Homo sapiens: one gene and its partners. The protein of the gene in region 1 purifies or fractionates together with the protein of each later gene. This does not show direct contact. Each region holds a gene or a part of one and is shown in the gene's direction. Other genes may lie near its edges.

The links.
Region 2: the proteins of CAPN6 (region 1) and CHRAC1 purify together in Homo sapiens (affinity purification with mass spectrometry; 2 studies listed by BioGRID and IntAct, with this or other methods). This does not show direct contact.
Region 3: the proteins of CAPN6 (region 1) and BICD2 purify together in Homo sapiens (affinity purification with mass spectrometry; 2 studies listed by BioGRID and IntAct, with this or other methods). This does not show direct contact.
Region 4: the proteins of CAPN6 (region 1) and UBA6 purify together in Homo sapiens (affinity purification with mass spectrometry; 2 studies listed by BioGRID and IntAct, with this or other methods). This does not show direct contact.

Annotation. Positions count from the first base shown.
Region 1 is NC_000023.11:111,260,412-111,267,494, reverse strand, and holds part of CAPN6 (calpain-6), read left to right. Parts: intron 1-3,543; 5' UTR 3,544-3,558; coding exon 3,559-3,723; intron 3,724-7,083. UniProt on the Homo sapiens protein: Microtubule-stabilizing protein that may be involved in the regulation of microtubule dynamics and cytoskeletal organization. May act as a regulator of RAC1 activity through interaction with ARHGEF2 to control lamellipodial formation and cell mobility.
Region 2 is NC_000008.11:140,506,313-140,514,380, forward strand, and holds the start of CHRAC1 (chromatin accessibility complex protein 1), read left to right. Parts: upstream 1-5,009; 5' UTR 5,010-5,187; coding exon 5,188-5,334; intron 5,335-5,683; exon of another isoform or gene 5,684-5,713; intron 5,714-8,056; coding exon 8,057-8,068. UniProt on the Homo sapiens protein: Forms a complex with DNA polymerase epsilon subunit POLE3 and binds naked DNA, which is then incorporated into chromatin, aided by the nucleosome remodeling activity of ISWI/SNF2H and ACF1.
Region 3 is NC_000009.12:92,754,759-92,761,841, reverse strand, and holds part of BICD2 (protein bicaudal D homolog 2), read left to right. Parts: intron 1-7,083. UniProt on the Homo sapiens protein: Acts as an adapter protein linking the dynein motor complex to various cargos and converts dynein from a non-processive to a highly processive motor in the presence of dynactin.
Region 4 is NC_000004.12:67,698,073-67,705,243, reverse strand, and holds the start of UBA6 (ubiquitin-like modifier-activating enzyme 6), read left to right. Parts: upstream 1-4,088; 5' UTR 4,089-4,124; coding exon 4,125-4,195; intron 4,196-7,171. UniProt on the Homo sapiens protein: Activates ubiquitin by first adenylating its C-terminal glycine residue with ATP, and thereafter linking this residue to the side chain of a cysteine residue in E1, yielding a ubiquitin-E1 thioester and free AMP.

The DNA of each region.
Region 1 (7,083 bases):
GCAGCCTTGTATTCTACGTGGCAGTCTCCCTCAACTTCCCTGGCAATTCTCAACTTTCTGCACTCTGGGCCCGCTCCTATCCTTTGCCTTGGCAGACACGGTTGTCCTCATATTCTTTCTCAAAGTGGTGGATCTGAATTATAATAATATTGCCTAAGACCATTACCTCAATGCTAAGCCCCACCACACTCTGCCTCACCCAACCGCTCATTCCACTAGCCCTCAGGCCACAGGGTCCCTCTTCTCAAATGTCCACATTGCCTTTGTTAGCTAGAGGCTCTCCTTGGTTTATATTCAAATCCCTGGGTTTATACTCAAAGCCCTAACTTTTATCTTGTCTCCCGACTTTCCTAATATGTGATCTTTAACGTAAGGGCTCTCCCTTCCCCATCGCCATCGGGTGCAATAGAACAGAAAGGAGGGAGTGTTCCCTTCTCTGCACTCATCCGTTCCAACAGAGTAAGTTGTTTATGACAAACTCAACTTACAAATTTCTGGGTTTCCAAAAGTATTCTGATGTTTAAATGATGAACCCGCCGATGTAAAGAGTTCAGATTCTCCCATGAACATCAAACCATGAAAATAAAGAACCTTTTCAATGTCTACCATGGCAATAAATTCTAGGCAGAATGCCTCAAAGTTGAGTATCATGTTTGCTTTGGAGGATTTCCTCATTTGAACTAAAAAATCCTTTCTCTAAGAAGGCAGTGACCAAAAGAAGCAGTGTGGTGTGATGGAAAGCTGCACACTGAATCTGGCATTGCACAGAACCTGGATTTGAGTTAACTCTGCCATTTTCTAGCTACTGCTTCTCTGAGCTGCCATTTCTGCAGATACAAAATGAAGGGCACAGATAATCTCATTAAACATGACTGCTATGATGAGAACCCGAACTAAAATGTAAAATGCACATTTCAAACAAGAAATTGCCATGCAATCACTAATTCTCCACATAAGACATTTATCTGTTCAACAAACATTTTCTGAACAATATTTGTGTGCCCAGCTCAATGCTAGGCAATGAGAGGGCTTCAGTGTATATTTTGCATTTATGGATCACTTTCTACTTATTCAAAATTCCTCTTACACCAACCATCTCATTAGGTACACCCATGGTGTAAGAGGGGCAGGGTAGATAACCTCACTTTCCTGATGAAAAATTTGAGGCACAAAGAGAACAAGGTCACAGAGCAAATGGATCACAGTTCTGTTGCCCAGTCAGAAATGCGGGTCACTTTTTTTTTTTTTTTTTTTTTTTTTTGAGACGGAGTCTCGCTCTGTTGCCCAGGCTGGAGTGCAATGGCACGATCTCGGCTCACTGCAACCTCCACATGAAGGTCACTTCTACTCTCCAAGTCCGAGAGGACTTGGGACTACAGTTGTACTGTAGTGGAAGTTCAGGCTCATAGTCTGCTCTTCTTTATTTACTGTGTGTCCCCAGAACACAGGCACCCTGACCCAAAAGGTGTTCCGTCAAGCTGTAATCTATCCATGTGAGCTGTACATTCTGCCTCTGAAAGAGTCTATTGGGATCACATGGGCTTTAAAAATCAAACCTGATTTTCCTTTCAATTGGTGCTACTTCTGTCTGTACACAGGCCCTCTTTATAACAGGGATTCCTTTTGCAGGATCTTGCCTGCCTTGCCATTTGACCGAGTAGTAAGGAAGACCTTTGAAGGCAGAACAGGAAATACTCATTTATCCAGAATGTCCAGGGACTAGGAGGTTCTGGCAAACTAAATATTCTAATTGCCCCAGGCTTTTCCACATTTACAGTCCCCAGGCTCTGGCAATTCACCAAACCTTCTAGGGAAAGCAAGAGGCGCAGTAGTGTTTGTTGTAAGTTTGAGCACACAAGAAAATTGGGATCCATTTGTAACAGCCTCCAGAAAGGAGTCTGGGCAAACATTCAGGTTGGCTCTGATGCTGCATAACTAAAAATTTTTACTGATACCATCCATGCTTTCAAATACAATGAAGTACACTTTAATATTTAAAACACATGAGCAGACAAATCTGATGAAAAAAGGGACATCAGTATTTTGCAGTGTCCCCACAGCTCTCAATTTTAAAAGCAATTGCCAATAAATAAGGCTATGAAAAAAATGTGGTTATTCTCAGCTTCTTATTCCTTGGATTCAGAGAAAGGGTAAGTTTGTTGTACATACATTGCAAATAACATTGTAATAACATTGCAAACATTTAAATTAAAAATTGTTATGGTTTTCAAATGGGGAAACTTCTTTACCAGTGAGGCATTTCAATGTGATACTGAAAGGATATAAAATGAACTAGTAGAGAGGTCTGATCAATATTTCACTTTTTATAAAACAGCGACTGCCTCACAGATATACCACACAGATACTCCTTAAAGTGCTAACGTATTCTCCTTATTTTTTAGCAGACATTCTGTAGCTTAGTCAGGTTTTTTTTGTTTCAACCCTCCTGTGATTATAGAATATAGACTTTAGTTATTTCTAAAATACATTTTGAAATAGTTGACACCATGTAAATTTCACAATCTCATTCTTATTTACTGTTGAATGCCAGGAGAGGATCATTAAAATCATTACAAATCTTTGTGAATCAAGAAAAAGCACTGAAAACCCTATTATCACCCCAAAGCTATTGAAAATCAAATTTGCCTTTCAAATTATCTTCCTAAAAACCAGTTGTTAAGAGCACTTGAGTGTGGGGCACTCTGATAGACATTGCTTGAAGAGCCACTATATGAATTCTCTGTTTAGCCATGTAAGGTTTTTGTTTTTCCTCCTTTTTTTTTTTTTAAAGAAAAGAAAGCAAGAGTGTATTGCCATGGGATAACAATCTATAGCCCACCAAATTAGTGTAATTGAATTTCAGAGTCTGCCTTTTATCACAGGCAAAGGATTATACATTAGACTTTTAAGAAGAAAGACCATACAATCTTTCTGTCTTTCCTTGTCTTTGGAGGCCATCTGCTGAGCTGTTTCTTGCAGTAGTCTTCCTGGCCAATAATAAAAAATGCAAAGCTCTTTAAATGACAAGACGGAAGAAATTGTGTAAAAAGACTTGCTGGAATGGAAAGAGGCTGCTTTTCCCCTCATGCACAAAGTGTGCGACTCTCCAGGGCACCAAATTATTCTGACTACAGTAAAGTGATTTTTCCCTTATCTTCAAGTTGTTCTCTGCCTTGAACTACTCCCTGCTGGTGTAAATGGAAGACTTCTCTTTAAATTATAATGAATCACATTTAATTCACAATCTTTACTTTTATTATTGATTTTTCCCCAATAAGATTAAGGCCCATATTGCCCCATTTGACAGATAAAGAAACTGAGACCCAAAATGGTTAGGTGCCTTACCCAAGGCCCCATACTAATTAGTTGCGGAGTGTGGACACTTCTTTCTTTGAAAATGGTGACATTTCCTTTAAAGCCAAACTAGAAGTGCCTAGCTCTGGGAAGAAGTCACTGGGATGACGGCTGTTTGTCTAATCTCAGGTAACCCTTAAAAGACCTGAGAAATTCTTCCTTCAAAGACAAAAATTTTCCTCATTCTAGGCATAGTTCAACACTATGGGTCCTCCTCTGAAGCTCTTCAAAAACCAGAAATACCAGGAACTGAAGCAGGAATGCATCAAAGACAGCAGACTTTTCTGTGATCCAACATTTCTGCCTGAGAATGATTCTCTTTTCTACAACCGACTGCTTCCTGGAAAGGTGGTGTGGAAACGTCCCCAGGTAACTTTCTATTTTACACATTCTGTCTCCTTGACCTCCTTCATCATACTTCTACGTGATCCACTGTTTCACTTACAAAGCCTACTGTGTAGACCAATTTAGAAGTTAACCTTCCTTCCTTCCTTTCTTTTTTTTTCAGCTTTATTGAAATATAATTAACAAATAAAAATTGTGTATGTTATGGTGTTCAATGTGATGTTTTGATATACATATACATTGTGAAATAATTACCACAATCAGGTAAATTAACGTATTCATCACCTCACATAAAGAAAACTTTATAATGAAAGTTCCATGGATCTGTGCTCCTGGCTCTAGCTTGGAGTCCTGAATTTTAGTCAAATTTTGACAGATTTACTTAGAAAAAACAACAAAAAAATACACTGTACCTTTTTGAGATTAGCTATTTAACCTTAAGCAAATTAATCTAAGATCCATTCAAGGTGTTCTGTGTATCAATAGTTGTTTTGTTTTTACTGGTGAGTAGTAATTTATGATAAGGATATGCCAAAATTTGTTCATCTAGTCACCCACTAAAGGGCATTGGGGTTGGTTTTAGTATTTTTTACTGTTACACATAAAGATGCTATGAATATTTCTGTACAAAAAACAGAGAGATATGCCAACCTTATTTTCTCTTGGAAGTTCATTTGAGTAAATATGGTAACACAAAAAGCAACTATGCTCTTGCCTCTTTACTGAGTTACCTGTCATAACAATTTAAATGTAATTTCAGACCAGTGAGGAGAAAAACTCCTTATAAAGTGAGCATAAATGAGACAAATTTTAAAGGGAGAAGATGAATTTTTCATGGGGGCAAGAAGGCTTCTTTGCTGCTCTATGGACACTGTCATCTGTATCATCCCACAACTGGACAAGTGGGCTTCAAGTAGAATTGTAGGTCTTTCACCACCTATTAGTAGTAACTATTAATAGTTGTTGTGGTTCTCTGTGCATCATCTGTATGTTGTGTCTCTAAAGCAAGTTTCAGAACCCTTTCACTAGTCCTACATGAGCAGGAGCTCAGTGTATAAAACAATAGGATGATGGAGTCTGGAGAATAAATTGCAACCTTGCTATACCTAAAGGGTATAACTGGATAGAAGGATATTGTACCTAAACTCCTTCTCAATGTAGGTGATGAGGTATATAGGCCACAGAAGGATGTTGTGAAATGCAAGTTCTTGGAACTTCATAATATCCTGAAGACATTCAGGTCCTATTTAATGAGGTTCCTTTCTGTGTACTATTATGGAACCATCTCAGGCATCATCTCAATGTTTGCCTCCCTCAAGTAACCCTTTTACCAACTATCACTTTTAGTTGCAATTTCCACAGCTTAAATTCCTAAATGGAGTTCTGCCAAGAGCTACTTCTGTTTATGCACGTTGCTACCATGTGGTGTCAAGATACACTGGTTACATCAAGACTTGTTTACTATGCAACTCAAAGGATATCTCTTAGTTTTTGCCTATAAAGAATGACAACCATTGAAAGTATGAGACTGGGAGAAGTTCGCTCTGTCTGAAGGAAAATTACACTCCTCCTGCCTTTCTGTGTCTGCAGTTATTGACATTCCAGCGGATCACTTAGCTGACCTGCAAGAAAAATCTAGGAAATGAGCAGAATTCATTAACCAATACTTTGGTATGCAGACAGGCTTTTTTTTTTATTTGCAAAAATACATGGAGAAAAATAGAGATACGTTGTCTGGGAGCCACTCTTATGAATGGATGGTGATAAATAAGGGGCATCCCTCTTTTCTGATGCTTGGATATGAAGGAAAAGATGTCAATAGGGCAAAAGTAGCTAAAAAGGAAGCAGGAAATTAAGAGAGGTGTATTGGGTAGGTGTCTTTCTGAAATAGGACAGACTTGAACATATTTATAGGCTAAGAAGTAGATGGTAAAGAAGAAGAGGTTGAAGACACAGAAGAGAAAAGGGATGATTGATAGGGGTGAGGTGGAGGAGGTGGGAGGAGATCCGATGGGCAGCAAAATTGCAAGCCAACATGAAGCCATTCCCCAGAAGTGCACCAAGCAGACAGTGTTTCCTGTACTGGCTGTCTTTAGACATATCCTTCCCCCTCTATCTTGGCTCAGTCCATTGTCCTTTGCCTTCATCCTCCAAATTCTGTGGATTGAATCCTAGATGGATTAGCAGGGAAGGAAAAAGTCTTAACAACCACGGCATTTTGCCTCTAAGGCAAACAATAGCCCTTCTAAAGTGAGAGAAAATCAGAGAGAGAGGCTGAACAGTGGGGATGGGTAGGAAAAAGAATCAACAGTCATGACATGCGTACTATGGGCCAGATACTGTGTTTGAAGTTTTCTATACATTATTTTACTTCACCCTTATTTACCATGGCTTAGCAAAGTAGGCATGTTAAAAGTTACTTTGATGCAATTCTGATTTCCTAGTTTAAAAAATAGCAGTAGATACATGCCCATTATATATCTTTATATAAAAAGAAACTGTGTCTTTAAGAGAAGGTAAGTATTTGCTCAGGGTCAGACTGCTAACAAGCTCGGATTTGCATCCACGTTTGACTGCAAAGCCTGCATAAGTTTTCACTCTATCATGCTGTCATATCAGGGAGATAGATAGAGTTAGTTGTTTGTGTCCCCTGTTTTCACCAAAATAGGTAGCTTCCCTCCAGTCAGTTCTCATATTCCTCTTCACTGTGTTGATGCCACACTTCCATTAATTGTTCCACACTCTCCCGTTTGAGAGCATGGTGTTTGCTTAATCTTATTAAGCCCAAAGGGAGGGTCACTAGAGAAATATTTACTGAACACTTACTCTATGCCAGCCTTGGTGCAAGACACAGACATGGCCTGTGGTGAGGCACTCCCATTCTAGTTGGGGAGATGGATATTGAGCTATCAAATAGTTAAAAAAGAAATGAATGTTGGATGTATGAAATGCTATTTTCAGTCATATGGACAGTAAATCATGTAGAATTTTTGAAGAAGGGGAGGTTACCATAGATTGGAATGGTTGGAGAAGGGGCCTCTTGTGGGGAGCAGGAGAAAAAAACAAGGTTCTGGACCACCATCTGAGCCTCCTCCAAAAGCTGTGGATTCCTTCCCAGCCAGAGTGGAGGCCAAGCCTGTGGTCAAGAACCACGTCAAAGTTCTCTGGCCTCCCATCAGGAAAGCTGAGAGACAGAGCTGGGCCTCTCTGAATTGGCTCAGGAAGGCCAGATGAGCCGTTGGCCTCCCCCACCTCATTGGCAAGGTTGAGATCCTGGTTTGCAGCGAAACTTACAGACATCTTGTCCCTTGGCATGCCATGTAGCTGCACACTTAACTGGGGCTATTTTCTGAAGTCTCCAAAATGGAAGCAACACGATTAACC
Region 2 (8,068 bases), on another chromosome or scaffold:
GGCCTTCCAAAGTGCTGGGATTAAAGGCGTGAGCCACCGCGTCCGGCCCTTTTTTTTTTTTTTGAGATGGAGTCTCGCTCTGTCACCCAGGCTGGAGTGCAGTGGTGCAATCTCGGCTCAATGCCACCTAAACCTCCCGGGTTCAAGTGATTCTCCTGCTTCAGCCTCCCGAGTAGCTGGGATTACAGGCGTATGCCACCATACCTGGCTTTTTTTGTATTTTTAGTAGAGATGGGATTTCACCATCATGGCCAGTCTGCTCTCGAACCCCTGACCTCAAATTATCCACCTGCCTCGGCCTCTCAAAGTGCCAGAATTACAAGCGTGTGTCACCACGATTGGCCCTAAAGCAAAAAATTTTTTTTGAGATGGAGTATCCCTCTGTTGCCCAGGCTGGAGTGCAATAGCGTGATCTCGGCTCATCTCAACCTCTGCCTCCTGGATTCAAGCGATTCTCCTGCCTCAGCCTCCCAAATAGCTGGGATTACAGGCTTGTGCCACCACGCCCAGCTAATTTTTATATTTTTAGTAGAGACGGGGTTTCACCATATTGGCTAGGCCGATCTCAAATTCCTGCTCTCATGATCTGCCCACCTTGGCCTCCCAACGTGCTGGGATTATAGGTGTGAGCCACCGCGCCCTGCCTAAAGCAAAATTTTTAAAGGAAAGACTGAGGCTACATCTCTGCTATCTGCCAACCAGATACAGGGATTATGCAAATTTCTTCAAGGAACACAAATCAAGTGGAGGGAGTAGCTGGGATTACATGTTGGCCAGGCTGGTCTCAAACTCCTGACCTCAAGTGATCCGCCTGCCTCAGACTCCCAAAGTGTTGGGATTACAGGCGTGAGCCACGGCGCATGGTCAAGAATTGTTTTCAAGGACATTGTTAGAGCTGGAGGCGCATGACTGAGAAGGAGGCACGTCACTGAGAAGGGCGAGGTGCTATGGAGCAAAAGGGAGGAGACGCTACCTCGAGATCAGGAAGCTGGGACTGCCCCTGGCCTGGAGCCCAGGAGCCCACACTCGCCCCCGAAGGACTCCAGGGCTGCCACTGTTGAGCAGAAACTTAGAGTGAAGCCGCTCAAAGCTCCACATGTGCAGGTGGTGATCCCTATAACCCCACTGCAGTCCTCTACCCTGCAGCCAGCAGGCAGATAAAGCTTCTTCCTCCCACCCCACAGCGATCTTTCACAGGGGCCTCCAATTTGCAGAACCTACCCAGAAGCCAGCTGACAGGGCATTCTGGGAAGTGCAGAAAACTGCCTTGCACCACCCTGGGATACCCATGAGAATGGTGCAAGGTACTGTCGTGAAGACAAAGTGAGCCCCTAAAAAACAGAGCTAACGACAGGATGAGACTAACTCACTGAGCTTTTTCCAGAGCCAGGAAGTTCTCAAGGACAACAGTCTTGAATTCTGCCGTCTTAGGTTTAAAGCTTCTTTTTTTTACATTTTTTTTCTCTTTGTAGAGATGTGGGTCTTGTTATATTGCCCAGGCTGGTCTCAAACTCCTGGCTTCACGTATTTCTCCTGCCTCAGCCTCCAAGTGATGGGATTACAGCTGTGAACCACACTGGATTTTTTTTTTTTTTTTTTTTAATGGTGAGCACTTCTTTTCCAGTATGAAGATTTCCTGCTTGGCTTCTCTCTCTACTTCTCAAATGATTAATGACTGCAAACATCACCTGCCAATTCTACAAGCTGAGCTTCTCATCCCTATTCTCTCTCCTTTCCCTCCCTCCCTTCCTTCTTTCCTTCCTTCCTCTTCTGTGCTCTTCCCTAATGTTAACCCATCCTGTTCTCACACATACTCAAAAGAGAAAGACAAGCCATACAAAAATAATAGCCAGCTAGGGAAACAAAACATCTAACAGCTTCAAAATATGTCATCACTATGGCTTGTTTCCTGTGTGGACCAAAGGACCCTCTTGTGTAGCTGCTCTTGTGTAGCAGTTCCCTGCCCCTCTTTTGTGAATGTCAACGGCTTTCCCATTTACAGAGGCAAGGCCGAGAGGGAGAGGGAGTCTGCAGCTCCACCTCCAGCCTGTGCAAACTGCCAGGAGTCGGCTCTGCATAAGGCACAGTGCCATTTGGTCATCACTCAAGAACCAGTGTGAGCTTTTAAAGTGGATCTGCTCCCTTCAAAACTTTTTTTTTTTGAGAGTCTTGCTCTGTTGCCCAGGCTGGAGTGCAGTGGTGTGATCTGTGCTCACTGCAACCTCCACCTTCTGAGTTCAAGTGATTCTCCTGCCTCAGCCGCCAATGCAGCTGAGATTACAGGTGCTTACCACCATGCCCAGCCAATTTTTCTATTTTTAGTAGAGAGGGGGTTTTGCCATGTTAGCCAGGCTGGTCTGGATTTGTTTGTTTTTGAGATGGAGTTTCTCTCTTGTTGCCCAGGCTGGAGTGCAAGTGGCGTGATCTTGGCTCACTGCAACCTCCGCCTCCCGGGTTCAAGCGATTCTCCTGCCTCAGCCTCCTAAGTAGCTGGGATTACAGGCGCGTGCCACCATGCCCGGCTAATTTTTTGTATTTTTAGTAGAGACGGGGTTTCGCCATGTTGGTCAGGCTGGTCTCGAACTCCTGACCTCAGGAGATCTGCCCCCCCTCGGCCTCCCAAAGTGCTGGGATTACAGGTGTGAGCCACCGCGCCCGGCCAAAAATAAAATTTTTGTAGAGATGCTGCCCTGTTATGCTGCCCGGGCTAATCTCAAACTCCTGGGCTCAAGCGATCTGCCTGCTTCAGCCTCCCAAAGTGCTGGGATTACAGGCATGCACCACCTCGAGTTCAAAATTCTTCATTATTTTCCATTACTCTTGGAATGAAAGTCAAACTTTTTACCCAGGGCCAGAGCCGGTCCCACCTACCTTGGTAACCACACCTCCCGTGCTCTCTGCCTCCCTCACTAAGCTCCAGACACACTGGCTTTTCAGTTCCTCAAACTGCCCAGGCATTTTCCTCGTCAGGTGTTCTCCCTAGAGCCTGACTTGTCCCGAAAGCTCATCTTGTCTCAGTCTTTCTGTATGAGTGGCTCCTTTTCTTTCTTCAGATCTGGGCACAAATGTCACTTCCCAGAGGGGCTGCCCTATCACTCGCACATGGTTTTGTTTCCTTCGTAGCTTTCAGCATTGGAGGTGTATTTTTTTTTTTTTTTTTTTTTTGAGATGGAGTCTCCCTCTGTCGCCCAGGCTGCTGGAGTGCAGTGGCGCGATCCCGGATCACTGTAACCTCTGCCTCCTGGGTTCCAGCGATTCTCCTGCCTCAGCCTCCCGAGTAGCTGGCATTACAGGTGCCCACCACCACGCCCAGCTAATTTTAATAATTTCAGTAGAGATGGGGTTTGACTATATTGGTTGGGCTGGTCTCGAACTCTTGACCTCAGGTGATCCACCCACCTTGGCCTCCCAAAGTGCTGGGATTACAGGCGTGAGCCAAAGCGCCCGGCTGGAGGTATTCTTACTTATTTTTCAGTCTCCCTCAGACCTGAAGGTCAGCTCTAAGAGGGCAGGGACCATGGCAGCCCTGCTCACTGGCTGTACCCTTGTGCCTAGCAATGCCTGACATGTATTTCTGTGCTCAATTATTTGCGCCAGGACCTCACGTCACAGTGGTGAAGAAGACACTACACTTAACACGCTCCAATTCAAACCTCTGCCAAAATGTGCTCCCTGTCTCAGTAAAGGGCTCTTTACCAAGGCCTTTCTGATATCTCAGTAAGCTGTGCTGATACTCCACAGCAGCTCCCTCTTGAAATCAGACCCCAAACCCTACCACTTCCCATGATCCTGGCAGAAGTTAAGTTGGTGGCCAGGCGCGGTGGCTTACGCCTGTAATCGCAGCACTCTGGTAGGCCGAGGCGGGCGGATCACGAGGTCAGGAGATCGAGACCATCCTGGCCAACATGGTGAAAACCCGTCTCTACTAAAAATACAAAAAATTAGCTGGGTGGCGCGTGCCTATAATCCCAGCTACTCAGGAGGCTGAGGCAGGAGAATTGCTTGAATCGGGGTGTTGGAGGTTGCAGTGAGCCGAGATCGCACTGCACTCCAGCCTGGCGACAGAGCGAGACTCTGTGTCAAAAAAAAAAAAAAAAAAAAAAGTTAAGTTGGACCCCTTACTCTTCCAAGGGCCTCCCCACTCATTCAGAGCGAATTCTGCGGTCTCCGCGGCCTTCCCTGGTCTGGCCCCTGACCATCTCCTGCCTCTCTCCTCCCAGCTGCTGTCCCCTTGGTACTGCCGGCCTCCTGAGGGCCACGTTCCTGGGTTCTCGTAATCATCTTCTACCTGGTCTCTGTGATTCCGGCCTTACGCGCACCCACGCCCTCCCAGCCGGCAGCTGCAGGGATCCTTTTAAAACTGCCCGGGACTCCACTGCTCAAACCCTACCACCACTTCCCATTTTCCTTAGAAAAAAAAATCCAACAGGACCTAGCCCCGGGCTGCCTGTCAGACCTCGGCGAGCACGCCAGGCTCTGCACACCGTCTCTCGGAGCAGTCCCGAAGAGGCCGTTCCCACCAGACTCCGGGACCTCCTCAGGGCAGCTCTTCGTCCTCCACCCCGCAGGAAGGCTCTTCTCCCAATCACCCCGCGGCGCAGCAAGCCTGGCCCCGCCGCATCGCCCGCGCTGGACTCTGCTCTTCCACCGGTCGCCTGGCTACCGGCGCAGGACGCATCCGCTGTCCGCTTGGTCGTCCCCCCTGGACTTTGTGCTTCAAGAAAGCGTCACTTTTTGCCGACGGCGGCACGCCCGGTCCTAGTACAGCGCAGGCGCTTAACACACAGCACCCAGCCACGAGGCCCGGAGTCAGAGGGCTTTGCTTGCCCATTCACAGAGCCCTCACCCGCGGATCAAAGTCGTATTCCGCGACCGCAGCCCGGAGACTCCCGGGAGCGGCGCGGTGCGCCCCGCCCCCGCCAGGCTCTCGGCTGCCGGTTCCGCGCCGGGCCTCGCACTCGGGGGCGGTGTCCGAGCGTCGGCGCATGCGCAGATCGGGGGCGCGAGGCCTCACGGAGCTCGTAGTTTCCCGGACGGGCCGCTCCCGGCCTCGCGGCCTCGCCTCCCCACACTACAACTCCCACGGGGCAGCGGGCGCGGCTCCCCGTACCCACCAGCTGGCCGGGCAGGGCAGCCACTTCGCGGTCGGGCCCGCCGGCTGCGGGCACCCGCGCGACGGGCGGGAAGATGGCGGACGTGGTCGTGGGTAAAGACAAGGGCGGGGAGCAGCGGCTCATCTCGCTGCCTCTATCCCGCATCCGGGTCATCATGAAGAGCTCCCCCGAGGTGTCCAGCATCAACCAGGAGGCGTTGGTGCTCACGGCCAAGGCCACGGTGAGGGGGCAGGGCGGGGGTGTGGGCCGCCCTTACCCCTCGCGCCCCGCCCCGCCGGGCTCTGGGCACTGCCCAGTCCCCTTAGGCCCGCGCGCCGCCGGCTGCTCTTGCCGGGCTCGCGCGCGCCCCGCTGTCCCCGTCCCACGCCGGCGCGCGCTTCGGTGCCCGCGCGCCCCCACACTTTCTCGCGCGTCTTCGCCCCGCCCACCCCTCGCCGCTCCCTCACGTTCTCCAGTTTCTTCGCCTCGCCTACCGCGCGCCTCTCCCGCCCTTTGTCGCCTTCCTTCGCTCCGCCCGCCCCTTCCTTCCGTGCGCACCTTCGCCCCGCCCACCCCACTGTCCTCCCGCCGTTTCTCTCGCGCTTCCATTCGGCAAACCCGTAAGCTCCCGCGTTCCTCTGCGCGCCTTTCGTCCCTCCCACCTGTGCGCTCACGTCCTCCCTCGCGTGCGGCGCTCAGTTTCCGGCCCTACCCGTGGGCGTCGGCGCCTAGTGGCGCTCTTCTCATTTGGGTTCTTTGGGGGCTCTTTCACCCGCGACTCCCTACTCCCGGCCTGCCTTTTTCTTGTCACTGGACTGCTTCGTGCTTTGAGGGCCCTAACTCCTCCAGTGTCCCGTGGGAGGGGCAGCCGGGCGCTTCACCCGCGACTCGAGGCTCTTTTCCCGCGCGTGCGGTGCCAGCTCCAGCGGTCCGAGGCTTTCGAGCCCTCCCGCCCGCCACAGCTGGGGCCCCTCGTCTAAGAGGCAGCACATTCCCCAACCAGAATTTAAGGAAGTCCGGGGAACTTAAGTTTTACAGCCTGCTTAGCATCCTCCTGGGTGCAAAATAGATAATTTTGTCTTTTTTTAAAAAAATTGCGTCTCGATAGTGTTAGGCCAGATGTTTTCCTGTTCTGACACTGGGCCATGTTTCAGCTACACAGTTAAATGCTTTAGCTTGTCTTGGATTCTATTTTCCAGTCCCTACTTGTAGTTAAGTATATGATGTCCCTGCAGTGTTGGACTAGAACTAAGGGAAGTGGGAAATTACAGGTTTCTTGCCCGCTTTATGTCAGAGCCATGTTTTCCTAGAGCCCAGGGAAATAATTGCATATTCAGCATTTCATCTGGGGACATTTGTATTTTCCTATACAATTTCATTCTATTGGTATTAAGGAATGAGGATTTATGCAGGCACTTCTGACCCGTTATTTTATTTTTTGAGATGGAGTTTCCCAGGCTGGAGTGCGGTGGCACTGTCTTGCTCACTGCAACCTCTGCCTCGCGGGTTCAGATGATTCTCCTGCCTCAGCCTCCTGAGTAGCTGGGATTACAGGTGCCTGCCATCACACTCGGCTAATTTTTGTATTTTTTGGTAGAGACAGGGTTTCACCATGTTGCCCAAGTTGGTCTTGAACTCCTGACCTCAGGTGATCCGTCTGCCTCAGCCTCCCAAAGTGCTGGGATTACAGGCGTGAACCATCACGCCCGTCTTTCTCATCCCTTATTAACTGAACTAGATGCATTAAAGTCAAAACCTTGAGAAAGAGGCTCAGTTCAGCCTCTGTAAAAATGAAGACTTGGCCCTGCTATAAGAACTGGGATGCAGGAGGGAGAAGATCAGTTCCGGTTGTTTCATTAGGTCTGAGGGTTGTATGTCAGTTCCTAGAATAGAAAAGTTTTGGCAAAATGTAAGCTGTGGTCACTATAGTTGTAGGTGAACCACCTTAGAAACAGTGTATGCAAATAGAAGACTAAAAAGGTATTCCTGAGCCAAATAGAATTTTTGAATGGCTTTTTGCTACTTTCTATTTTTTTTTCTTTTTTTTTGAGACGGAGTCTCGCTCTGTCGCCCAGGCTGGAGTGCAGTGGCGCGATCTCGGCTCACTGCAAGCTCCGCCTCCCGGGCTTACGCCATTCTCCTGCCTCAGCCTCCCGAGTAGCTGGGACTACAGCCGCCACCATGCCCGGCTAATTTTGTTTTTTTTTTTTATTTTATTTTTAGTAGAGACGGGGTTTCACCGTGTTAGCCAGGATGGTCTCGATCTCCTGACCATCCTTGGTCCGCCGTCCTTGGCCTCCCAAAGTGCTGGGATTACAGGCCTGAGCCACAGCTCCCGGCCGCTTCTTTCTTTTACTCTAGAGGTTGGTCATTAAACAGTTACGATTCATCTTTTTCGTAAGTTAGACATCTAAAATAAGCCTCTGGAAAATGCCTGCTTCTCCGCCAATTTTGATACTGGCTTTGCTTTCTTTCTGACCTCATGTTTTTCTTTTCCCCAGTGATTTCTTTTTTTTTTTTTTTTTTTTTTTTTGAGACGGAGTCTTGCTTGATCACCCAGGCCAGAGTGCTGCAATCTCCAACCTCCACCTCCCAGGTTCAGGCGATTCGCCTGCCTCAGCCTCCCGCTGGCTGGGATTACAGGCACCCGCCACCATGCCCAGCTAATTTTTGTATTTTTAATAGAGATGGGGTTTCACTATGTTGGCCAGTCTGGTCTCAAACTCCTGACCTCAAGTGAGCCGCCTGCCTCAGCCTCCCAAAGTGTTAGTATTACCAGCGTGAGCCACCACGCCTGGCCTCCCCAGTGATTTCTTGTAATTTAATTTGAGAAACCAAGAGAATCTGAAGTCTTAATATACTTTTAAGCCTAATTAAGGAATCAACAATGTAATTTTAAAAATTAATTTCTGTGGTACATTTTCAAAGCACACCTTTCATTTGCATTTTTCATTTTGTTCTAGGAGCTCTTTGTT
Region 3 (7,083 bases), on another chromosome or scaffold:
CTAGTGATTTCTTGAGCCTGACTCAGTTAAGACCATATCTGTCCCCGTTCCCACTGTGCCCTTTCCCTTCCTCTCCCTGGAATGGTGGGGAAGAGAATTAGATGGGCTTTGGTCAGCAACCTGGTGTTCCTGGTCCTGCGTGGCCGTGAGACACTTTGTTCTGTGTTCTTAGCTGTAGCTTTAAGAGGACAGGTGTGCTGAGGTGGCAGCTCCTGCCTTCAGGGCACAGGCAGGGACTGTAGCTAGGTGGGCTAAGGCTAGGTGCCCATGTGGTCCTCATGGTCAGGGGAGGGTAATGGGGGAGGTCTGAGAACAGTCTTGACTCCACCTGAGCTCAGGCTCAGAGAGGAGGTCTGGACACCCTCACTGCCTTGGTGTGCCACCTTGGTGTCATAGTGTCAAGCTCTGGAGCACCATTGTCCTTGTCTGAGAGGTGCACGTGGGTGGAATTGGGTGTTGGACTGGGCACAGCACCCAACACGCAGCAAGTGCTTCGTAGGTCTTCTGCGGACTGAATCTCATGCCTCACTCAGGTCTCTGTCTCCTTGCTGCTGCACCTGCAGCTTCTCCCCGTTCTTATCCTTGTCCCTGCTCAGTCTCAAGTGGCTTCCATTGCCACCTCCCAAGGGCTGCCCTAAGCATTGTCTCAGGCCCCTACAGCCTGGCTTGGGACTGCCCTACCTCTCCTGTGCCCACATTCACCCTTTGTCTTAGAAGTCCCACCTGCCCTTCAAGCTTGGGTGTCTCTAAAATTCCCCTGCCTGCTGCCTTCTGGACTTGCTGAGCCCTGTTCCCAGCACCTGGGCAGCTGCAGGAAGTGGGGGCAATAGGGTGATTGGCAGAGGACCCTCCAGGAGGTTCCTCTGCAGAGTTACTGGGGGTGAGGCCCAGCCTCTTTGATTGTTTGCTTCCAGAGCAGGAAAAGTCCTGGTCTTGGTTAAAGCAAGTGTGGGATTCTCCCATTCGTCTGATAACCCCTGAGAACATTGTTGTGTCCATTTCTGAACAGAAGGCTGTTGGGAGCAAGGAGGCTCTGGGAGACCCAAGGGCCTTTCAGGGGGCTGGGTGGTGGCAGTGGTCTGCTGTTGGTATGAGGAAGCCTGGCTTGGGTGGGAGCTGGGGCCCTGTGAATACCTGAAGCACAGATGGGTCTGACAGTTGGGGAGAGGCAGCTATAGGCATCCAAAGATGATGACCATGTGGCTACACTGTTGTCACTAATTGTTGGGCAATTCTCTCCCCGCTGGGCCTCTCTTTCCCCACTTTTAGAATATGGGGCAGGGGGTCATGAAGGAATCTTTAGGGACCCTTACACTTTTAAAAATGTCTGAAACTCCCACATCGAGCCCTGGTGCTGTTTCTTCCTGTAGGGCCTGGCGACTGGGCACTTGTGTATCTCAATCATCCTGGGACCTGGCCAGGGAATCTGCCCAGCCCTAGGCATGCGGATGGTGTGCTCCAGGCCAGCCCTGCCAGCATGTGGAGGCGTGGACCTGGCCACCCTCCATGGGATTCAAGGCAGGCACAGCTGTGATGGAGCAGCTCGTCTTTGGGGATGCCAAGCGAGCATGCTTTGTGGCTTAGCAGGTGGATCCAGAGGAAGGCCAGGCCCAGTGCTGGGAGCCCCTGGGCCCCTGGGGGTGCCTGGCACCACCTGAGCAGGACCGACTGTATATGATGTCTGTCCCTGTGAACTCCATACTGACTCCACAGGGGGAGTCTGGGCCCTGCCTGGTCTCCCAGGAGCTTGCGGCCCTGGATGAGCCGCTGCCTGTCTGGGCCGTGATAGGTTAATGATGATGCCTGTTACCTTGGCCCAGTGCTCTGTGAGCCCCCAAGGTCAGGGAGTGGTGTCCCTGTGCCCTTGTGTCTGAGCATCCGGCCCAGGTCCATATAGGATTCCTGCTAGGTCTCCCCTGTCACTTAGGGACCACAGTCCCTTCCTTTGAGGGAGGAGATCAGTTTCTTCTTTGTCAGTTTTGGGCATCCCCCAGTCAGTCAGACCTGCTTCCCCACATAGGTGGACCAGATGAAACTGTTACACACATCGGGGGTAAGAAAGATTTGGTTTCTTCTCAGACAGTACACCAGCTGTTTGAGGTGGTGGTGGCTGGTGGCCAGGGCTGGCCAGGACTATGCAGGCTTTGACAGGTAAAGCATTGGCCTTAGACCCTGTGTTGTCCAGTGTTCAGAGTGTGGCCTCTGAAGCCGAACTCTGGAGCAGGAGAGGGCCCAATGTGGCTGCCTAGCTGCCTCCTTGGGCTCAAACCCTGCTGTCCCAAGCTGGGCTCTGCTCTGCTGTGGGAGGTGGATGGAGAGATGGGGACTGAGTGGCAGGCAGGCTCCCCTTGCCACCCTCAGAGCATTGCAGGCCAGGGTTAGGGTTAGGAGGAGGTCACTGGGGGCCCAGCTTCTTTTTTAGAAGCTACTGTGTTTTAAAAAATCATACATTCACTTTAAGAACAGCAGAAAGTGGAGAGAACAGTGTCAATAGGACCTGTGTAGATGGCGCAGGACAAATGTGGGGAGCACTGGGTGTTTCTCTCTGCCAGCTCTTCTTCCCTTGTGAGTGTGTGATGTGTACAAGACACCATCAAACACAGGGGAAAGGCTTTGTGCATCTGTAATAGTTGTTTTTTGTTAAAGTTAGTTTGTTGCTACTCTGAGATACATAAAAGCAGGTTTAATTCAAGTAGATAAAGACAGGAAGGTTTCTGTGGATCCAGAGGTTCTGTGGTACTTCTAACTTATACTGTTGTGTTACTATATGAAATAATTGTCATGGTTTGCTTTTTATAGTTGGCTTTTTACTTTTTAATTTATTATTATTATTATTTATTTATTTTGGTAGAGTCAGGGTCTCACTGTGTTGCCCAGGCTGCTCTTGAACTCCTGGGCTTGAGCGATCCTCCCGCCTTGGCCTGCAAAGTGTTGGGATTAGAGATGTGAGCTACCACGCCTGATCTATAGTTTGCTTTTTTTTTTTTGAGACGGAGTTTCGCTTTTGTTGCCCAGGCTGGAGTGCAATGGCGCGATCTTGGCTCACCACAACCTCCGCCTCCCAGGTTCCAGCGATTCTCCTGCCTCAGCCTCCCTAGTAGCTGGGATTATAGGCATGTGCCACCATGCCCGGCTAATTTTTTTTGTATTTTTAGTAGAGATGGGGTTTCTCCATGTTGGTCAGGCTGGTCTCGAACTCCTGACCTCAGGTGATCCGCCTGCCTTGGCCTCCCAAAGTGCTGGGATTACAGGCATGAGCCACCACGCCCAGCCTTTTTTTTTTTTTTTTTGAGACGGAGTCTTGTTATGTTGCCCAGGCTGGAGTACAGTAGCTCGATCTTGGCTCACTGTAACCTCTGCTTCCCGAGTTCAAGTGATTCTCATGCCTCAGCCTCCTGAGTAGCTGGGATTACAGGTGCGCGCCACCACACCTGGCTAATTTTTGTATTTTTAGTAGAGACGAGGTTTCTCCATGTTAGCCAGGCTGGTCTCGAACTCCTGACCTCGGGTGATCTGCCTGCCTCAGCCTCCCAAAGTGCTGGGATTACAGGCGTGAGCCACTGCGCCTGGCTGCTTTACTCATTATTTACTTATTTATTTATTTATTCATATTATTATTATTATTATTATTATTATTTGAGACAGAGTCTAGCTCTGTTGCCCAGCGTGGAGTGCAGTGGCACGATCTCGACTCACTGCAAACTCTGCCTTCCAGGTTCAAGCAATTCTCCTGCCTCAGCCTCCCGAGTAGCTGGGATTACAGGAGCCCACCACCACGCCCGGCTAATTTTTGTATTTTTAGTAGAGATGAGGTTTCACCATGTTGGTCAGACTGGTCTCAAACTGTTGACCTCAGATGATCCACTCGCCTCAGCCTCCCAAAGTGCTGGGATTACAGGCGTGAGCCACCGCGCCCAGCCTTTACTCATTTTTTAAAGCCACCTTCTTTGTTGGATGTTTCCACATAATCAAAGGTGGAGAGAGTAATAGAGTGAGTCCATGTATGCTCCTGCCCTGCACCTGCAGTTTGCAGCTGTGGCCGGTCTTGTTTCTACCGCAGTTCATCCTGTGTAGCTGTGTCTGTAAGTATATCAGTTGTTTTGCTAAGAAAATAGAATCTTTTCTTTTTTTTTTTGAGATGGAGTCTCACTCTGTCACCCAGGCTGGAGTACAATGGCGCGATCTCGGCTTACTGCAAGCTCCGCCTCCTGGGTTCACACCATTCTCCTGCCTCAGCTCCCCCCCGCCCCCCCGCAGTAGCTGGGACTATAGGCGCCTGCCACCATGCCCAGCTAATAGAAAATAGAATCTTTTCTTACAAAACTTAACCATTGTTGAACTTTCACACCTAAGAAACTAACAAAAATTCTTTAGTGTCATCTGTTGTCCAGTCAGTGTTTGGATTTCCCCAGTTTGGCTCATAAATTTCATTTTACAGTTACTTTGTTTCTTCAGAAGCCAAGCAGGATCTGCAGGTTGCATTTGGTTGAAGGCCTTCTCAATTTTTTTTTTTTTTTTTTTTTTTTTTTGGAGACAGTCTCGTTCTGTCGCCCAGGCTGGAGTGCAGTGGCGTGATCTTGGCTCACTGCAATCTCTGCCTCCTGTGTTCAAGCAACTCTCCTACCTCAGCCTCCAAAGTAGCTGGGACCATAGGTGCACACTGCCACACCTGGCTAATTTTTTGTATTTTAGTAGAGGCGGGGTTTCACCATGTTGCCCGGGCTGGTCTTGAATTCCTGAGTTCAGGCAATCAGTCTGCCTCGGCCCAGCAAGGTGCTAGGATTACAGACCTTGTCATTTTAAAGACAGCGCCATGTGTGGCCTGTCCTGTCCCCTTTCATACTGCACTGGCATTAGCCCTGGCTACTCTATTTTTATGCTGTGGAGGGTGCCGGTAGGCGGAGATTCCCACTTTATCTGCCCCTGCCAGACACCTTACTCTTGTCTTTCTCTTTTATTTCCTTTTTTTTTTTTTGAGACGGAGTCTCACTCTGTTGCCCAGGCTGTAGTGCAGTGGCGCGATGTCTGCTCACTGCAACCTCTGCCTCCCGGGTTCAAGCGATTCTCCTGCCTGAGCCTCCTGAGTAGCTGGGATTACAGGCGTGCACCACCACGTCTGGCTAACTTTTGTATTTTTAGTAGAGACAGGGTTTCATCCTGTTAGGCAGGTCTTGAACTCCTGACCTCATGATCTGCCTGCCTCGGCCTCCCAAAGTGCTGGGATTACAGGCGTGAGCCACTGTGCCTGGCCTCTCTTTTCTTTTTTAAAATATTAGCCAGGGGCCGGGCGCAGTGGCTCACGCCTGTAATCCCAGCACTTTGGGAGGCTGAGGCAGGCGGATCACGAGGTCAGCAGATCGAGACCATCCTGGCTAACACGGTGAAACCCCGTCTCTACTAAAAATACAAAAAATTAGCCGGGCTTGGTGGCAGGCACCTGTAGTCCCAGCTACTTGGGAGGCTGAGGCAGGAGAATGGCATGAACCCGGGAGGCGGAGCTTGCAGTGAGCCGAGATCGTGCCACTGCACTCCAGCCTGGGCAACAGAGCGAGACTCCGTCTCAGACAAAAAAAAAAAAAAAGTAGCCAGGGTGCCTCCTTCAGCTGATGCATCATGGCTTGGCTCTTGCATTGCTGCATTGTCATCACCTATTCTGGTTCATCTGTCGCCCCAGCCTTTACTGTGGAGCTCTGCCCACCTGAGGTGATGTTGTCATCTAGTGGGTGTAGATGCCAAGCCCTTCTAAACCAGAAGGGAGGAACTAGTATTGTCACTGTCCTACCATTGAGGGTGCTGAGGTCATAGTGAGGACCACTCATACTCTTACTAGCATGGCAGTGGACTCAGCCATTCTTGGCTTGACTTCTGTGACCTGGAGCCAGTCTCTCCCCTCTCTGGGCCTCAGTTTCCTTGTTTTAGGCCAGTGCATTCCTGACGCCCTTGGAGGTGGATCAATTTCTCCCTCTAGTGACAGCATCATGGCGGGCTCAGGCCCAGGACGCAGCTGCTTTGCAGGCATGTGTTGCCTGCTGCCTGGGCTCCCCATCTGCTTTGCTCTGCCCTTCTTCCTCACACCCATGTTCCCTCAGTACCACCCTCACAACATGCTGGGGTGTAAGGGCTGGTTGATGACAAGCATGTCCATAAGCCTAGGGGATTCCTTGGGTGTCCTAAAATGTGACCTAAGATAATTATCGGGGAACATGCCCCGATATTCACGTAAGTTCTTTTCATTTTCCTTAAGTGTCGGCCAGCTTGAGAAATAAAGGGACAGAGTACAAAAGAGAGAAATTTTAAAGCTGGGCATCCGGGGGAGACATCACATGTCGGTAGGTTCCGTGATGCCCCACAAGCCGCAAAAACCAGCAAGTTTTTATTAGGGAGTTTCAAAAGGGGAGGGAGTGTGCGAATAGGTGTGGGTCACAGACATCAAGTACTTTACAAGGTAATAGAATATCATGAGGCAAGTGGAGGCAGGGCAAGATCACAGGACCACAGGACCGAGGCGAAATTAAAATTGCTAATGAAGTTTCGGGCACCATTGTTATTGATAACATCTTATCAGGAGACAGGGTTTTGAGATCAACTGGTCTGACCAAAATTTATTAGGCGGGAATTTCCTCTTCCTAATAAGCCTGGGAGCGCTATGGGAAACTGGAGTCTATCTCACCTCTGCAATCTCGACCATAAGAGACAGGTATGCCCCAGGGGGGCCAGTTCAGAGACCTACCCCTAGGTGTGCATTCTCTTTCTCAGGGACGTTCCATGCTGAGAAAAAGAATTCAGTGATATTTCTCCCATTTGCTTTTGAAAGAAGAGAAATATGGCTCTGTTCTGCCCGGCTCACCAGTGGTCAGAGTTTAAGGTTATCTCTCTTGTTCCCTGAACAATTGCTGTTATCCTGTTCTTTTTTTCAAGGTGCCCACATTTCATATTGCTCAAACACACATGCTGTACAATTTGTGCAGTTAATGCAATTATTACAGGGTCCTGAGGTGACATACATCCTTCTCAGCTGACAGGATTAAGAGATTAAAGTAAAGACAGGCATAGGAAATCACAAGGGTATTGATTGGGGAAGTG
Region 4 (7,171 bases), on another chromosome or scaffold:
AACATGAAATCATGTAGTTTGAAGCACCATAGATGGAACTGGAGGTCATTATGTTAAGTGAAATGCCAGGCATAGAAAGACAAATAGCACATATTCTCACTCATAAGTGAGAGCTAAAAAAGTGGATCTCATGGCAGTAGAGAGTAGAATGATGGTTACCAGAGGCTGGGAAGGTTGGGGGTAAGGAGGATGAAAAAGGTTGCGTAATGGGTACAAAAATACAATTAGATAGAGGAAACAATTTCTAGTGTTCGATAGCACTAGAGGGTGACTATAGTTAACAATAATTTATCATATATTTCAAAATAGCTAGAAGGCAAGATGTGAAATGTTCCTAACACAAAGAAATAAACAATGTTTGAGGTGATGGATATCACAATTACCTTGGTTTTATCATTATACCTTGTACGCAAATATCAAAATACCCCATAAATATATGCTTATTATGTATGTATTAATTTAAAAAGGAAATAAAACCATAATATTGCTGAACATTACACAAAAGCAACAGAAAAGGGAATTCTCTGAAATTAGAAAAGTTTTCCCAAAACCTGTGAGAAAGCAAATAAGCATAGAATAAGAAAGTAAAAATCTGCTTTGCCATTCATCAGCTATGGGATAACAGGCATAAATAAAGCCAGCTGTGAAATTAACAGAAAATACTATTTCTCTCTGGAAGATGCTTTAAAATGTCTCAAACACACACACACACACACACACACACACACACACACACACACCCTTAGAGTAACTGATTTTTTACTCACACAATGCCCTTTTCTCTAAAATCATAGAACATTTATGACAATATCAAAAGATTGTCAAAAACTCTGCTGTTTAAATCCTATTATTAAGATTGAAATATCTCACTCTTGGCTAGAATATCTAAAGTCACATTGACACAGAGAAATAGTTTCTACTTCTGAGAGGCAGAACTTTGCAATTTCCAAAAAACAGAACCCTGGGTCCATCTTGTATTACGTTGGTGCAAAAGTAATTGCAGTTTTTGCCATTAGTAATAGTTTAGATGTAGTGTAGAATTCTTTACAAACAGCCTTGCTTTCTTTTGAGTCTATCAAAGCACTACTTCATTTCAATTCCTTCTAAACTCCATACTTCCCCAAATTCCTACAATAAATCTATCTCTTCCTCTGTTGGTGAGGTACCCCATGGTTCTTCTGGAATGTGGGCTCCCTCCTTGCAATGAGCCAGTAAACCTGATGATATGGTCTGCTCTGTGTCCCCACCCAAATCTCACTTCAAATTTTAATTCCCATGTGTGCAAGGAGAGACCTGGTGGGAGGTGATTAGATTATGGGGGCAGTTCCCCCATGCTATTCTTGTGATAATGAGGGAGTTCTCATGAGATCTGATGGTTTTAAAAGTGGCAGTTTTCCCACGATCTCACTTCTCTCCTGCCACCGTGTAAGATATGTCTTGCTTCTCCTTCACCTTCTGCTATGATTTAAGTTTCCTGAGGACTCCCCAGCCATGTGGAACTGTGAGTCAACTAAATCTCTTTCCTTTATAAATTACCCAGTCTCGGGTATTTCTTTATAGCAGTGTGAAAACAGACTAATATACCTGACTTTCTTGGAATACAGTTTTGTTCCTGATAAACTTAGGCTTATTGGGCTAAGAAGCCTGTCTCATATTAGTTCAGGAACACCAATTTCACATAAAAATGAGCAATAACTCACGCCTGTAATCCCAGCACTTTGGGAGGCCAAGGGGTGGATCACGAGGTCAGGAGATCGAGACCATCCTGGCTAACACGGTGAAACCCCGTCTCTACTAAAAATACAAAAAATTAGCCGGGCGTGGTGGCAGGTGCCTGTAGTTCCAGCTACTCGGGAGGCTGAGGCAGGAGAATGGCGTGAATCCGGGAGGCAGAACTTGCAGTGAGCCAAGATCCCGCCACTGCACTCCAACCTGGGCAACAGAGCAAGGCTCTGTCTCAAAAAAAAAAAAAAAAAAAAAAAAAAAAGAGCAACAAAAAAAGCATCAAGTTCAAATCCATGCAGTTATTATGTGAAGAGAATAAGGAATATAACATCATCATCAAAGATAATAAAAACATGCCTGAAAGATGCACTACAAAACAATTTATTATTTTGAAACTAGCTAAATGACATTAGAGAAATGATAAAAGATATGGAAGAACTTGATTCTGAATTAGAAAAACCTCAGAAATGAGGTGACAGAACTCAGGAGAATTAGTAATAAAGAATAAACTACAAGAAACACAAAAGCTAATAAATGCAACAGATTATGATTTGCTGTAAAGAAACCGAGTCAATCCTTAGATCAATGTTTCTGTAATAATTCTGATTGTCAGACACTTTCTCCAATTAATTATTAAGGAGGGGCTCATGAAAACACTAGTCTCACCAAATTGATATATCAATTGTTGATAACAGTTTGTACCTTTTGTATATTAGTTTTGCTGAATGTAAAATCTTTGGCCTACATATTTTTCCCTTAAGTTTCCTCAATATGTCATTCTACTTTCTTATGACATAAAGCCTCACTGTCAAAAAGCTGTGATCGCCTAGTTTTCTTTCCCATTTTACATATGTGACAAAACATTAAAATCTGTTAAATCTGGTTGCTTGTTACATGCCTGAAATAATTCACACCATATTTTATCAAATCTAACATGCCCTCAATTTTAAGATGCATCGTTTTCTGTATTTATTTTTTAAAAATTCATCCTCTATTCATGGATGTTAAAATATGAAGAAGCGTGGGTAATGGCAGGCCATTGTTTTGGCCTAGCCTTCTACACTAGGCCCCATCAGATCAAACCAGAATGGAGTTGCTTGTGCTAAGCACCATGTAATTAAAGTGGATTTTGAAAAAATGAGCCAGTTTTTTTTAAAAAAACAGGAGATTCTAGTTAACCTAGTGGGCATAATAAGGAAGTATGCTCTGTTTTAACCTTTACAAGGAAAGAAACTTTGAAATAATCTGATTTTTGTTCTGTTTCTGCTTTCTTCAATCTTTTTCATTATCTTCAGTCCTGTAGCATTATCTTAGTGCTAGAGCAGAGCCTTGAAAGAATAGAACACAGATCAAGAACATTTTAATGTGGAAAAGGTTCACAACTGGATTGAGGAACACGGATAATGCTATAGGTGAGCAACATAAAGCTTCCAGGTATTTTAAGATGTGCAATTTTGAAGAGAATAGAGGGCACGAAGGATAATACAGTTTTGCCTGGACCCTCATCTCCATATGAGAGGAAAAATTTCTAATTAAAAATATGATACATCACAGAAAATTACATAATACCCAAAGTATATGCTAATTTTAAAAATCCTGCAGATGTTTATTCAAATATACAGTGTTATTTAGTGAAAGACAAATCCTAATGTTATTGTGTCCAACTCATTTTTGCTTTCTAAGAAAGGTGACACGGAAGTAAATGAAAAAGAATTATATGAGAACTTTTTAGATATGTGTTCTGGTAATCTAACAGTGACTAGCTCTATAACCTTGACCAAGTCACTTGCACTGACCGGAAGTTCCTTTCCCTTACCCACAAATTTAAGGGACCAAACTGGATGATCTAACGACATCTATGGCACTAAAAGTCACATGATTCTATTAAATCTGAGGCAGCGCCTCACATGTAGTGGACTCCCAAAATTATTTATTAAATGTATAACATCTTTAAGTGGTATCCCCTCACTGACAATCTGGAGCTATTAGCAGCCTTCAGTTTATTTATAAAATAAAGCTGTTTCCTCTTCTTACCGTTAAGACTCTTTTAAGGATTTGCAACGCTATCCCATCATTTCGCGGGTTACTAGAGTCCTGCATGTTTGGCTGTAGAGCAAGGGTGACGCGTAACTTCTGGACTTTGGTTCCATCTACATCTGCCGGATGCGGATGCCAGTCGCAACAGTAACGCCCCCTTCGGCCACCTGCACCACAGCACGCCATGCGGCCACACCCAAACCGGAAACCAGGACGCCCCTAGGGTTGACGGGAAGGCGCTGCCGGGCTCCTAGCTTCCCCAGGCCCGCCCCCTCTGATGACGTCTCCGCCCGCCCCTTGACCCCCCCACGGTCCCGCCCCTTCCTACCTTCCAGTAGCCGGCGGCGGTGTCTCAGGCGGCAATGGAAGGATCCGAGCCTGTGGCCGCCCATCAGGGGGAAGAGGCGTCCTGTTCTTCCTGGGGGACTGGCAGGTGAGAGGACGAGAAGGGCGAAGGTGAGGGGTCGCGGGTGGGACCCAGGCTCCGGGTTTCTGCTTCTTTCTTTCCGGCGGGCTGGGGGCGCCCGAGAGGCCGCGGGGCCGAGCAGAGCCGGCCCTGGGAGGCGAGGGGCGCGCGCGGAGTGGGTGTGGCGACGTGGGCTAGGGCCTCTGCTGTTGCCGGCTTTCCTGAGGGAAAAGTCCCCTTTCCGCACCTTTGAGGGCTTTCTCAGTTCTGGCTGGGATTCGGGATCCTCCTTCCTCCAAGTCACCAGACTTGGGGGGCTCCGGTCGAGAGCGAGTTCTGGTCTCGGTCACTTGGCGTGAGCTTCCCCGACTGGTGCCAAGCACCTTTCCTCCTTTCCGTAAAAAGAAAGCTAGGAGCGCCACTGTGCACCTCCACTGAGATCCTCTTTTGAAAACTATTACCAGAAGGAACTTGGTAAGAATGAATCAGTAGCAATCTGGACACCCTGAGGCCTTTGTTGACTTCGGAAGAAGGAAAAAAAAAAAGCCAGGAAAAAAAAATACACAAGTTACCCATTCTTATTTCCCACTTGGTTTTGAAGTTCTTCAGGTCTTTCCCGCCCCTGTAAAATTAGGGGGAAAATATTTGTGCTAGGCCTTTACCAATTTCTTGGTTAGTAGTTCCTCTTTCAATCATCTCATAATTAATAAAGCAAGTGGTTACATTCTATCCACCACTGTCAGAATACACCATGCCAAAGATAGAATTGATGGATGTATTATTTTCAGCTGATGTGAGACTTTGTAAACCTGTAGCCTTTTCGCCAGTTTCAGACTGAAGGGATGCTTTCAGTTTCATGGTGTTGTCTGCCATTGCCAACACTGCCAGAGTGGAGGGATATTATGTAATATAACCCGCGCCTTATTTGAAGCGTTTTTGATTGTCTTATAGATCATATTATTTTTACATATTTTTGAAACATTCCAGTGAGGCACAACTTTCTGAAAAGGGCCAGTCACGCCATTAAGTGGCAGAGCTAGTTAGACTGCAGCTGTTCTCGTTTTTATTCAGATTTACCCACCAGGCCTATTGCCCCCGCCATGCAAGGAAAACAGCAAGTGAAAGTGTACTAGGGATAAAATGATAGGAAAGTAGATAATAAAAAACTTTGGCCGGGCGCAGTGGCTCAAACGCTTGCAATCCCAGCGCTTTGGGAGGTCGAAGCAGGCGGGTCGCTTGAGCTCAGGAGTTCTTAGACTAGCCTGGGCAACATGGCGAAACCGCGTCTCTACAAAATACAAAAAAATTAGCTGGGCGTAGGTGATGCACGCCTGTAGTCCCAGCTACTCGGGAGGCTAAGATGAGAGGATCGCTTGAGTCTAGAGAGATCGAGGCTGCAGTGAGCCGAGATCGTGCCACTGCACTCCAGTCTGGGTGACAGAGAGAGACCCTGTCTCAAAAAAAAAGAAAAGAAACAAATTTTGTTAATTTTTATATTTTGTTACAATGCCCAAACAGGGTATATTGTGTATGTGTGTGTTTTTTATTAGGTAGGTGATCTCTTAGAACACAGCTATCTTCTGATTTGCCTTGGTAATTGGAATCAGTTTTTTTAATAGCTATCCGTTTAATTAGCTAGAAGCTGGTATCATTTGATATGTGCCAGTGTTTGGTGAGATAAATGATAACATTTTAATTACCTTTGTTTACAAATTCTTTGGCTTATTTATCAATGCTAGGACTAGAAAGTTGGATTCCAAGCCTGAATTTGATGCCATCGCATTGTTTTTAGAATCTTTTAATTGACAACTAGAGCTTCTCAGAACTAGGAATGGCCTCCACTTCTGCCAGTATATTGATCTCAGCTCTCACAGTGGTTCAGCTCCAAATGCTCCAGACTGGTTCCCTGTACCTGGGAATTATCTCTGCTTGCCAGTGTTTAGTACAGATACGTTTTTTGAAGGCCATGCTGTGAAAATGGGACGAGCACTGCTATAAATAATATGTTACTATAATAAGTATACTTTGTCAGATTTGCATATTTAGATTAGTTTTTTTCCTTTAAAATTTATTCATTTAACAGGGTTTTTTTGTTTTGTTTTGTTTGTTTGTTTTTTGACAGAGTCTTGCTCTTGTCACCCAGGCTGGAGTACAGTGGTGGGATCTTGGCTCACTGCAGCCTCCTCCTCCCGGGTTCAAGCGATTCTCCCACCTCAGCCTCCCAAGTAGCTGGGAATACAGGCGCCTGCTACTACATCTGGCTAATTTTTGTATTTTTAGTAGAGACAGGGTTTCACCACGTTGGTCAGGCTGGTCTCGAACTCCTGACTTCAGGTGGTCCGCCTGCCTTGGCCTCCCAAAGTGCTGGGATTACAAGCATGAGCCACCGCGCCCATCCCATTTAACAGGTTTTTTTAAGTGTTTCCTTTATGTCTAATATCAGAAACAGTAGGCAGTATGTGTGGTAGTCAAGAGCTAGACTGCCTGGGTTCAGATCCTGGCAGTGCCATTTGCCTGCTCTGTGACTTTGGGCAAATTTTAAGTTAACCTCCCTCAGCCTCTTTTTTCCATCTGTTCGTTGGAGATAGCAATAGTGCTTGCCCACTGTTTGGACAAGGTTGTTGTAAGGGTTAACTGAATAAGTACATCTAAAGCACTTAAATATGTAGCACAGGGTTATCTATTATTATTAAATGCCTGGTACTGTTTTAGGTATTTGGAATACAGTAGTGAGTTTTTAACAGACCATACATTTTTTTGGTAGTAGTGGCAGACAGTTAACGGTAAGTGATTTGAAGAAACTGACAGGTTAATGAGTTAGGCAGCAACCTAAGGATAAGAGTAGCCATTTTATTGATAGGGTGATCAGGAATGAGGTGTGTGGTATTTGTGACACAATATTTTAATAGAGGCTTAAGTGACAAGAAGTCAGCTATTCCGAGATTTTAAGAAAGAACATTCTAAGCAGAAGAAATAGGTAAAAACTCTGAAATGAGAGCAAGC